Homo sapiens: one gene and its partners. The protein of the gene in region 1 purifies or fractionates together with the protein of each later gene. This does not show direct contact. Each region holds a gene or a part of one and is shown in the gene's direction. Other genes may lie near its edges. The genes, in order: ATL2, STK39 and ACRBP.

Region 1 (3,750 bases):
CGTGAAGATTTTTTTGCCCTTCTTCTCCTCCTCCTCCTCCTTCTTCTGCTTCTGCTTCTTCTTTTTCTTCCTTTTCAATACTACGTTTTTCAGGCCAATGATAAAACAGAAAATGTCTTGACAAAGTGAGCTCTCCAAATCATATATCACAAGGACGTAAGAGGAATATCACTTAACAAGTTGATAAAGATCCTGCCATCAATATGAACGAGGGGGAAGGGTAACTGTACTTTAGATTGTGGAGGTGGTTCAAGTCCCAGAACTAGAATCTTAGTAACTCAAAGAATATTGCCAAGAACACGTATATAGTTATTCTCCTAGATTTATGTGACAATGATGACAAACTCCATATTCTGTTGAAATATATTTGGATGGGCCGGGCGCAGTGGCTCACGCCTGTAATCCCAGCACTTTGGGAGGCTGAGGCGGGTGGATCACGAGGTCAGTAGCTCAAGACCAGCCTGGCCAAGATGGTGAAATCCCGTGTCTATAAAAATACAAAAATTAGCAGGGTGTGGTGGCGGGGGACTGTAATCCCAGCTACTCCGGAGGCTGAGGCAGAGAATTGCTTGAACCCGGGAGGCGTGAGCCACCATGCCCTACCTAGAATGGTATTTTGAAAGCTTTAATAACACCAGTGCTTTTCTAGAGATTGTGCATGCTGTGAATTTTAGACTTATGAAAAGACCTGGACAAAACAGCTGTTTGTACACCCGGACATCTGTTTTTACTGGAGAAGAGGAATTTCTAATGCAGCTGGCAGTATGGTAAAAATCCAAAGGGATCATGTTTCACAGACGCCTCCACGGGCTGACTTGTAATTTAAAAAGTGACCTGAACTTTCTACTGGATGTCACTGGATCCCCAGAAGAAGGTTCATCACAATTAGGTAAGAACCTGCCACGATTCATTTTCCGATTAGAGTGCTTTCTGGCATGCCTCTGCAAGGTGCTAGGAGCACAGGGCCAGGGTATACACAGTTGAGAAGATGGGGGAAGGTCTCATAAGTAGATGGGGAGCGAATGCAAACAAACCTTAGGATGGTGGGGGGGAGGGGAAGCAACAGTAGGGACTTGGGTGAGGAAAGAAAAGATCAAGAGGAAAAGCAGGGCACTGGCAACAACTTGGGGGGTGGATGGGGAGAGAGGAGGGGAATGGCTGTGATGAGGAGGGGGCGATGAAAAGGAGAGAAGGGGTGCGAAAGCCACCTCACGTGCAGGACGCACGAATCAACGATTAGAGATGTAAAGCGAATTGGGAGGGAGGGACTTAGTTCTCTGGAGCTCCCTTCTGCGTTTGCAGAGCCTGGCCCAGCGCTAAGGGGGTGTGGTGCTGAGCTCAGGGAGGTGGGGGTGTGAGACGGCGGCGGCAGGGACACCCCCGCCCCAGTCCAACCAGAAACTTGGAGCCGGGGAGACGGATCTGCAGGCGGGCAGGGCGAGGGCGGAGCGAGCGAGCGATGGGCGGGGCGGGGGCGGAGGGAGGGCGAGGAGATACAGGCGGAGGGCGAGGAGATACAGGCGGAGGGCGAGGAGATACAGGCGGAGAGCGGCGCTAGGACCCGCCGGCCACCCCGCCGGCTCCCGGGAGGTTGATAAAGCGGCGGCGGCGTTTGACGTCAGTGGGGAGTTAATTTTAAATCGGTACAAGATGGCGGAGGGGGACGAGGCAGCGCGAGGGCAGCAACCGCACCAGGGGCTGTGGCGCCGGCGACGGACCAGCGACCCAAGCGCCGCGGTTAACCACGTCTCGTCCACGACCTCCCTAGGTACGGGCCAGCGAGGCAGAGGCCGCGGGGCCCTGATGGGGAGAGACGCTCGCTGCTCGGGCTCGCGGGCACCGGCCGCAGGCGGCGGGGTCGGAGTCCGCGGCTGGTTCAGGTCTCCTCCCGCCGCCGCGCCTGCCCGCCGGGCCTAGCCTCAGCCGCGCCCCGCGCTCCCGCAGCGCGCGGCCTGAAAGGGCGGCTCGTGGGCCGCGGCTCCAGTAGCTGCTGGGAGAACCAGTGGCGCGCGCGTCTGCGACCGGCCCGGCCCCCTGCCCGCCAGCCCGCCGCGTGGCTGCCGCCGTGTCCGCCCCGACCTTAGGGGGCGGCCTTGAGCCGTGGCCGCCTGCCCGGGGCGCGGGGAGGTCGGCTGCGGCTCCGCTCCGTCCGGCGAGCTCCGGACGCGGCGGGGCGACCCGTTAGCTGGTGGGCGTTCGCTGTCCCTTACGCGGACAGGGAGGAAGGGGTGGCCAGGGCATGATGGGCCCCGCGGAGGAGGAGGTCGCGCGGGGAGCAGACACCTTGCTGCCGGGTCCGAAAGCTCCTTAGACACCCTTCCTGGAGGGAACCGCAGTCCGCAGGCCAGGGCTCTGTCCCCGGGCTCGCGTTTCGGGGCTCCTCGGCTCCCGAACCCATTCGCGCGGGTTGTGCGTGGCTAGGGTGCAAGTCTAGATTTTCGTGTCAAACTGGGGTTATGAGCCGTTTACGAGTCACTTGGACGATAGTAAGGCCTGATCACTCTGAAAGTGTCTGTAGTGTGAAGTCACCTGATCCTTGGCTCCCTGGTTTTGCTGAATGTGAGCTCCTACTGTACGTGTACCAGGAGCGCCCCTGCCCCCTCGAAGACGCAGTTGCGTTGGCAGCGCAGTGTATCCCTCTCACTCATAACACCCCTATTTATAGGAGTTTAGCGTTTGATCTCTCACTGTGGTGCGAATTGATCGCATGAAATCCTGATTGAAAATTTTGATGGTACTTAAGAAAGGCATAAAGTTTTTTCAAAGGCTTATAAATAGTAAAAGCCTACGATTTGGTAAGTACGGCCAAGATAAGAGTTTATTATTAAATACAGATACGAGCTCGTGTCTTAAGATTTCTTTTTTTACGGTGTGTAAAGGTTTTGCTGGATAAAATGTAAAGCATTTTGGTATGATGTTAACCACAAGGACTCACTTTAATAGGAAAGTTTATTTGAAATATACTTCATCATTCCTGGTAGTTCTTGGCGCATGTCAGAGGTGATGACAGACTGGAGTTTTGCTAAGGGAAGAAGAAAAGGAAATAAAGCTTATTTTATTATTGTCTGCCAACCAAAACGCTTGACTGTTTGTACAGTGGTAGCACTCTGTAGAATAAAAAACTACCAAAGAAGCAGCTTCGCCTTAGATGTGTGCTGGTTGGATTTCTTAAGTAATTAATTGTTTTGGAATGCGGATGGATTAATTTCGCTCTTTTGGTTGGACCCTAGGGGAAGAAGTGTGTGTTCTTTTCTTTCTTTCTCTTTCTTTCTTTCCTTTTTTTGAGGTAAGAGTTTTAGATGCAGTTTCAAAATATTCTATGTATTTACCTTATTAGAAGAAACATAAATTTATACTTCAGTTATGGTTGTGAACGTTGTTGTGCTGTGGTATCTTGAGAAGAGATGATACTCTTCAGATTGTTGTTGAAATAGGGCCCACCATTTATTATTTAATAAATGCTTTTGTCTGCTACTCATAGGTTTTTGTCCTTTGTTTTTTAGGACGGATCAGCAAGACCTTCACTTGATAGCCATTCCTAGCAAATGATTGCCTAAAACAGTCCCTGTACCTGCTAATTTGCTCCGAGTCACTCATTAATGAGTTAAAAACTAAATGAGCTTGGTAGGATTTGTGTTTAAAGTGAGAAGAAACAGACTGAATGAAAAGGACTCATCTATTTTTGACTGTGTAGAAACTCTTTGTCTCCCTCTGCTTCCTGGAGAAATAGCTTCAAAAACCAAGTTGGGG
Region 2 (3,650 bases), about 130 Mb from region 1:
GGGAGATGGACTGGCTAACTTTATGTGTAGCCTTTGATTCTGTGTTTCTAGAGAAATGTCTGTGGTTTTGTACCCAAGTGAATCTGGCTGCATTCCCTTTGGCTGTATAGATGTACCCCTTAGGAAACAAGGACAGCTTTTCACTGTTACAGTTCTGCCACCTTGTTCTAACTGTCATATGCAAGCTATCTCAATATAATATACCAATTTTTTGTGTATATAACATAAGCACACTATGTACTTTGCTCAAAATGTTCTGTTACTGAGTACATATAATCTGTATACACATCAGCCGTACATAGGAGCAAATTGTATATTTCTTCTGTAGTCATAGAGGGAGTAGATATTAGGATTGTTGTTTTCTGCTCCTGAAATTTTTGTTCTGAGTTTTAAAGACATTTAGCCATCTGTTTATGACTTTAAAGTGAGTGTTCAAAGTGGAGGCTCTGAATGTATGTATCATTACAGATATATTGAAAGGGTATTGTCAATAATAAATGGCTACTATACATCTTTTTCGGCTGTTTTCTAACTTTTTAAAATGTGTAATGTAAGCAGGTAGTATTTTTAAGGAAGTGGAAATATATCTAATGTTAACTATGGATTTTTACCTGGATTATGTCTTTTAGGAAGAGACTTTAGGGTGCAGAGTTGCTTCAATTGCATTTAAAATAATCAATTTTTCCTTAAAGCAGCTTTTACCTGTATCCTTAATTTATAGATGATATGTATTTATTTCATATTATATTATAAAATCATTTTAATAAAAATGAAATGTTGGATTCATCGTTGAACTTCTTTTTAGAAATATAAATTAAGTTGAAATTAGTAGCTTTCAAAGTTTTATCATATATATTTTTTCCAGCAGATATAGTAGATGCTTACAAATATTTTAATTCACCTAACTCTTCTCTAAGAGAATGAATTGTATCTTCTCCCACCCACAGGAGACTGACTGGTTCCAGAGATTTCTTTTCACAAGACTTCAGTTTTCTGGCTGCAGTATAAGAATTAAAAGGGCTTTAGAGTTGGAAACATATATGCATATTAAGTTATTTAGCAGTTTAAACATATATACTTTTATTCAATATGAACATGAGAGTAGCAGTTGGAACAAAGACTCCATTTGTCAATTTTCATTCCTTTTATTTGTAGTTGAAATCCTGTTGGGAGTATGAGTAAATTTAAATATAAATAAAATGCAACATTCAATGTATTTCTACTCAGGAAACCAGTTACAATGTTATTAAGTTACAATTGCATAAACTAACCTTATAGGCCTACAGCAAATGCTAATACATTTTGACCTTGGTTTGTACTTGAGGGTGTTTTTTGGTAATTGCTGTCACCCTGACAGCCAACAAGGGGGACTCGCAAAGGAAAAGCGTATGAGAGCGATTTGCAGGGGCTCAGACTGCACATTGCGCTGTGGTGTTTTGATGTGTTGCCTACCTGTTTTTATTACTACCCACCAGCTCGCTATCAAGTAGTCCTTGACCTGGCTATCATTGATAGGTACACTAGTCTTGAGTAATTGGTACTTTAACTTATCAACTACTTTTAACCACTGTGTAAAAATGAAAGCAAGAATAGTACGTTAATAATTGCCAGGCATTCCCTTCTGTACTGTACATACAAATAGAATTTTTACACATGTGCCTGTATGTATATATAGGTTGAGTATCCCTAAATCAGAATATGTGAAATCTCAAATGTTCCAAATTCTGAAACTTTTTGAATGTGAGGTGACATTCAAAGGAAATGTTCACGGGTACATTTCAGATTTCTGGTTTTCGAATGAGGGGTACTTAACTAGTTTAGTATATAATGCAAGTATTTTAAAATGAGAAAAAATCCAAAATCTAAAACATTTCTGGTCGCAAGCATTTCCGGATGCTCAATCTGTACAGTATGCCTAATTAATTCATCTTCTTATAAAATTAACTTCTATATATAATGAGTTAAAGTTAAGAAAAATATTATTTACTTGTACAATCCATTGCCTCTGTACTTATGAAAATTGTCCAGAAAATCAGTCTTTGCTGACTAAGCTTTTTTGCATATGGACATACTCGGGCATGTTGGCTTTATATATCTTATCTTTATATACCTCAGCTAAAAGCTAACACCCTTTATATTTAATTTGGTATGCTAAGCTTTTGGACCGGCAGGCTTGTGGCCCATTACCAGCGATGGTATTCTCCAAGGTGTAGGGGATAGCAGAGGGCAGGTCTTCCTTTTTTTTCCTGAGAGAGCACCGTAGACATGTTTGGAATAGTTCATCACCACTGTAAAGCTCACAAAGAAGAGACATGCTCAAAAAATCACAATTTATAAGCAATAATGTCTTACATAAAATAAAGGTGATTTTTTTTTCCCTTTCAGATTTTGGGGTAAGTGCGTTCCTAGCAACAGGGGGTGATGTTACCCGAAATAAAGTAAGAAAAACATTCGTTGGCACCCCATGTTGGATGGCTCCTGAAGTCATGGAACAGGTAAAAAAACAAAAAAAGTGACTTTTTGATGGACATAGTACAATCGTACAGATCATTAATATGCTAACATTTCATTTGTATCTAGCATTTTAGTAGAATGCATAATGTAACTAAGATTTAATTCTCAATTGCTAGCTAATTAGCAAACTAACGTGAAAGTTATACATCAACAGCTGTGGATTTCTGACATGACATGGACTTGATGATGTGTAACATGCCTGCTGTATGATTGTGTTTTTTTCCTGCTTTCTTTCTTAGGTGAGAGGCTATGACTTCAAGGCTGACATGTGGAGTTTTGGAATAACTGCCATTGAATTAGCAACAGGAGCAGCGCCTTATCACAAATATCCTCCCATGAAAGTAATTACAATTGGAAATACTACATCGGGGTTGAAATGTGATTGGACGGAATCTGTTTTCTAATTCTCTTCAACATCTTCATTCTTCTCTTAGACCCGAGGAGAATTAATGGAGGAACGCAGCCAAGTTGAACATTGTCTGATTTTCTCAGTGGACAGAATAGGACAAAAGTAGCATAATTCCCAGCTTTGAAGCTTGCTTTATAGTCTCAGCACAGAGTTAAGAAAATAATGTTATCAGATTGGTTGATGGAGGTTGATAGCTATGACAAATGCTGGTCATTACTCTTTTGATAGCAGAACAACGCCAGGTTCCCAGAGAATATCTCAAAATAGATTATAGTGATGTCATCTCTGCAAATGGGTTTCCCAGATTTTCAGAGCTTTTTTTTTTCTTTCTTTTTAAGTGGACTACAACATTTTTACCCCTGCTCTTATAGTGTAATGTTGGCAACTGATCTGATATAAGTGAGCCACAGTGTTTTTAGGATGCTATTTTCACGTTTCTGCTCTTCTTTTAACTGGTTTATACCTCATTATTTCTCTTAGTTCTGAGATAGTGGTATCAGGGCTTATTTACCCAACTGGATTTTGTTTTGAGGCTGAAATAGTTTAGTGAAATTATAATGCTATTTTACATAGAGTATGGTCTATGATTGTTTCATGGTTACTGGAAAAATTTGGGAGGATTTATTTTAAAAACCCAAGAATAAAAAGTGAGTTTTACTGATTAAAAGAAGTAGTATACTCATATTGTAGAAAGTTTGGATGTGCAACTCAGACTAAAGAAGAAAAA
Region 3 (3,579 bases), on another chromosome or scaffold:
AGAGTTGGAAGGACCTGGACCCATGTCCCAGCTTCCCCATCTGTTAGATAAGTGGCTTTGAGCAACTTACTCAACCTCACTGAGAGTCAGTTTCCTTGTCAGTAAATGAGAGTAATATTAGTATCTCTGCTGTTATAGGGTTGTCGTGAAAACTAAATGAAATGAGAGCATGTGTAGCCATAGTGCTGGCACTGGGTCACCTCTTTGTAAATATTAGCATTATCATTAGCAGAGGTGGCAGGGGAGGGTTATGAGTTCTTTTCAGATAGGCTAAGTTGGGGTATCTGTAAGATCACCCAATCACAGACATCTGTCAGGCACTTGGCAATGAGGATTTGGAGCCCAAGAGAGAGATCAGAGCTGGTGATAAAGATTTGGGTGTCACTCGCAGATAGATGATTACCTAGGAGTAGATAAATCATCCAGGAAGAGGGTGAAGAAATAGCTGAGGCAAGGTCCTTGAGGAACCCTTGGGGAGGAGGCCAAGTAGAAAACCCAGAGAAGCTTTTGGAAGAGGCTAAATGCAAAGACATTCTGCAGGGCCCACCCTGGAGGGCTGAGGCATGGGAGAAGGCAGGCCGCTGACTCTCAGCTTCAGCCTCACCCATTCCCCTGCCCCAGGTCTGTGACAGCCTTGGGCGGCGACACATGTCTACCTGTGCCCTCTGTGACTTCTGCTCCTTGAAGCTGGAGCAGTGCCACTCAGAGGCCAGCCTGCAGCGGCAACAATGCGACACCTCCCACAAGACTCCCTTTGTCAGCCCCTTGCTTGCCTCCCAGAGCCTGTCCATCGGCAACCAGGTATCTAGCCCGGCAGCCCGCAGTGGGAAAGGCAGAACTGGGTGGCAGGGGTGGGGTGGTGGTGGCCAGCAGGTGGGGAGGGGCACGCACCTCTCCCCTATCTCCTGTGCCACAGGTAGGGTCCCCAGAATCAGGCCGCTTTTACGGGCTGGATTTGTACGGTGGGCTCCACATGGACTTCTGGTGTGCCCGGCTTGCCACGAAAGGCTGTGAAGATGTCCGAGTCTCTGGGTGGCTCCAGACTGAGTTCCTTAGCTTCCAGGATGGGGATTTCCCTACCAAGGTTAGAACCTTTCCCCAAAGCTCAGCCCCATCCCTACCCTCACCCCATTCCTTCCAGTTACTTGCTGTGAGTAGCGCTAGTTTGTGGAAGGGGGCTTGGGCCCCTGGCTTCTGAGAACCCGTCCTCACTGAATCTCCTGCCTCTCTCCAAGAGACCATTGCACCCCACCCCACCCTCCACCAATAGAGCAGGCAAAGGAGTGGGGACCCAGAGGGCTGAGAAAACAGGAGCTAGAGGTTCTGGTCCCAACTCTGCCAGTTACTTGCTGGGTGGCTGTGATCAAGTCACTTCCTACTCAATCAAAGAGTCATCTCTACAAGAAATGACTGAGTGACACGTGCACCACTGCCCAACCCTGTGATCCAGGACTTCCCGGCCTTAGCCTGACGGGCTTCCCAGCTCTTCCAGTGCCTTCCCTGCTCAATTAAATCAACTTGGCTCCCCGTTCCCCTGAGTTACCTCCCCTGTGGAATGACCTGTTGTTTTAGATCCAGGCCTCTCCTCCTGTAGTTAGCAGGGAAAACCAAGGCAAGGAAAAGTAAGGGCAGCTGAAGCAAGGGCTGGTAGCTGAGCTGGGGGGCCCATGTCCAGCTCTTGTCCCTGGGCCCCTTGATCTGGAATGGGGAGGCGAGGTCCAAAGAAGGCAGTGACTCACTTCCCCCTTCCCTTATCTACCATTACCAGAAAAATCCTTGACATCAGGCCACTAATCGGGTCCCTGTCCCATGTTCTGGACCCTTATCTACCCCGTCCTGCCCCATTCCCGCTTCCTCAGCCACTTTCCCAGTAAGCTGACTGGCAGCCTCATACTCTCCCAGGCTCCTGGCTTCTTCCCAGCAACCTGTGACAGAGCGGCAGGGGAAAGGCAGAGGGAAAGCGGAGTGAGGGGCCGCCTGTGTGTGGAAGACCTGGGTCTTGGGCCACACCCTGCCCCTGGCTCTGCCCTAGCAGATATTCCCTGGAGTGCTGCTGCCTGGTGAGGCTTCTGATACCCTCTTCCCTCTCTCTGGCTCTTGGCTTAGATTTGTGACACAGACTATATCCAGTACCCAAACTACTGTTCCTTCAAAAGCCAGCAGTGTCTGATGAGAAACCGCAATCGGAAGGTGAGCACCCCTGCCCTGCCCCTCCTTCTCCCAGCACCCCCTCAATCAGTCACCATAACTGGTCTATTCTGAGGCCCCCTCTGCGAGCAGCTAGGATGTGGAAAGCGGTTCCTGCTTGCATCTCTGGGGCAGAGGCCTCCACCAGCAGGCTCTCCTCCATTCCTCCAGTCCTGGCGGAAGCAAGGCCCTCCTAGGCAGCTGGTGGATAACAGAGGAGGGTCCTAAGAGCACCACAGGAAGAACCCTTGGCTGGGCCAGGACTTGGACGTTGAGGTCTCGGTCTGTCTCCTCTTCTTACTCACCAAGTAGCCTGGGATGAGGCACTTCCCCCTCTGAGCCTCAGCCGCCTGTTTCTGCATGAAAGGGGTTGGGCTGCTTGATGTCTCCTCTGGCTTTAAAAACCCACATTTGAGTTTCCTCCTTCCCTCTACTGCCCTGTGCCCATGCCTGCCCACCTCTCGTTCTTTTGGGCTTCTGACACCTCCCCTCCTCCCCACTCCTGGCACCTGGCTCTGTGATACAGACCGTCTGCACTGAATCTCTGTGTAGGTGTCCCGCATGAGATGTCTGCAGAATGAGACTTACAGTGCGCTGAGCCCTGGCAAAAGTGAGGACGTTGTGCTTCGATGGAGCCAGGAGTTCAGCACCTTGACTCTAGGCCAGTTCGGATGAGCTGGCGTCTATTCTGCCCACACCCCAGCCCAACCTGCCCACGTTCTCTATTGTTTTGAGACCCCATTGCTTTCAGGCTGCCCCTTCTGGGTCTGTTACTCGGCCCCTACTCACATTTCCTTGGGTTGGAGCAACAGTCCCAGAGAGGGCCACGGTGGGAGCTGCGCCCTCCTTAAAAGATGACTTTACATAAAATGTTGATCTTCAGCCTGTGTGGCCTGTTCTGGTTATGATCCCCATCCTCAGCACTGCTACCCTGCCCCGTGGCAGTCAGTCCCCAACCCCTGGTTTTATGGATCCACCTGCCGGTGAGAGAATCTCATGGGAATGGTGCTCAGGGAAGCAGCCATCTGCCAGGAGAAGCAGAAGACCTGAGAACCCAGGGAGGTGAACTGAGGAAGGCCAAGAAGGCTGGGGCCCTAGGGATGATGTGGGCATGTGGGCACCTGTCTTCATTTCTGAAGCCCTAAGCCCCGTGATGTCAGATGCGAGTGTAGTATTGTTCCTCTGTAGGATAAAGGCCAAAGCCTGATGAGATCTTTTCCAAAGGGACCAATCCTGGGGTATAGGGAGTGTGCACCTTGCACTTAATCAGGAAGGGAAAAACCAGGAACTATAGCCTAGATCAGGAAACCTTGGGGTTGTTTTTGTTGTTGTTGTTTTGTGTTTGAGACAGGGTCTCGCTCTGTCACCCAGGCTGGAGTGCAGTGGCATGAT

The links.
Region 2: the proteins of ATL2 (region 1) and STK39 purify together in Homo sapiens (affinity purification with mass spectrometry; one large-scale study listed by BioGRID and IntAct). This does not show direct contact.
Region 3: the proteins of ATL2 (region 1) and ACRBP purify together in Homo sapiens (affinity purification with mass spectrometry, with the first as the bait; one large-scale study listed by BioGRID). This does not show direct contact.

What each region holds. Positions count from the first base shown.
Region 1 is NC_000002.12:38,375,161-38,378,910, reverse strand, and holds the start of ATL2 (atlastin-2), read left to right. Parts: upstream 1-1,637; 5' UTR 1,638-1,650; coding exon 1,651-1,768; intron 1,769-2,380; exon of another isoform or gene 2,381-2,731; coding exon of another isoform or gene 2,732-2,795; intron 2,796-3,750. UniProt on the Homo sapiens protein: Atlastin-2 (ATL2) is a membrane-anchored GTPase that mediates the GTP-dependent fusion of endoplasmic reticulum (ER) membranes, maintaining the continuous ER network. It facilitates the formation of three-way junctions where ER tubules intersect.
Region 2 is NC_000002.12:168,139,494-168,143,143, reverse strand, and holds part of STK39 (STE20/SPS1-related proline-alanine-rich protein kinase), read left to right. Parts: intron 1-2,385; coding exon 2,386-2,495; intron 2,496-2,753; coding exon 2,754-2,855; intron 2,856-3,650. UniProt on the Homo sapiens protein: Effector serine/threonine-protein kinase component of the WNK-SPAK/OSR1 kinase cascade, which is involved in various processes, such as ion transport, response to hypertonic stress and blood pressure.
Region 3 is NC_000012.12:6,637,565-6,641,143, reverse strand, and holds the end of ACRBP (acrosin-binding protein precursor), read left to right. Parts: intron 1-621; coding exon 622-801; intron 802-916; coding exon 917-1,084; intron 1,085-2,106; coding exon 2,107-2,190; intron 2,191-2,739; coding exon 2,740-2,862; 3' UTR 2,863-3,069; downstream 3,070-3,579.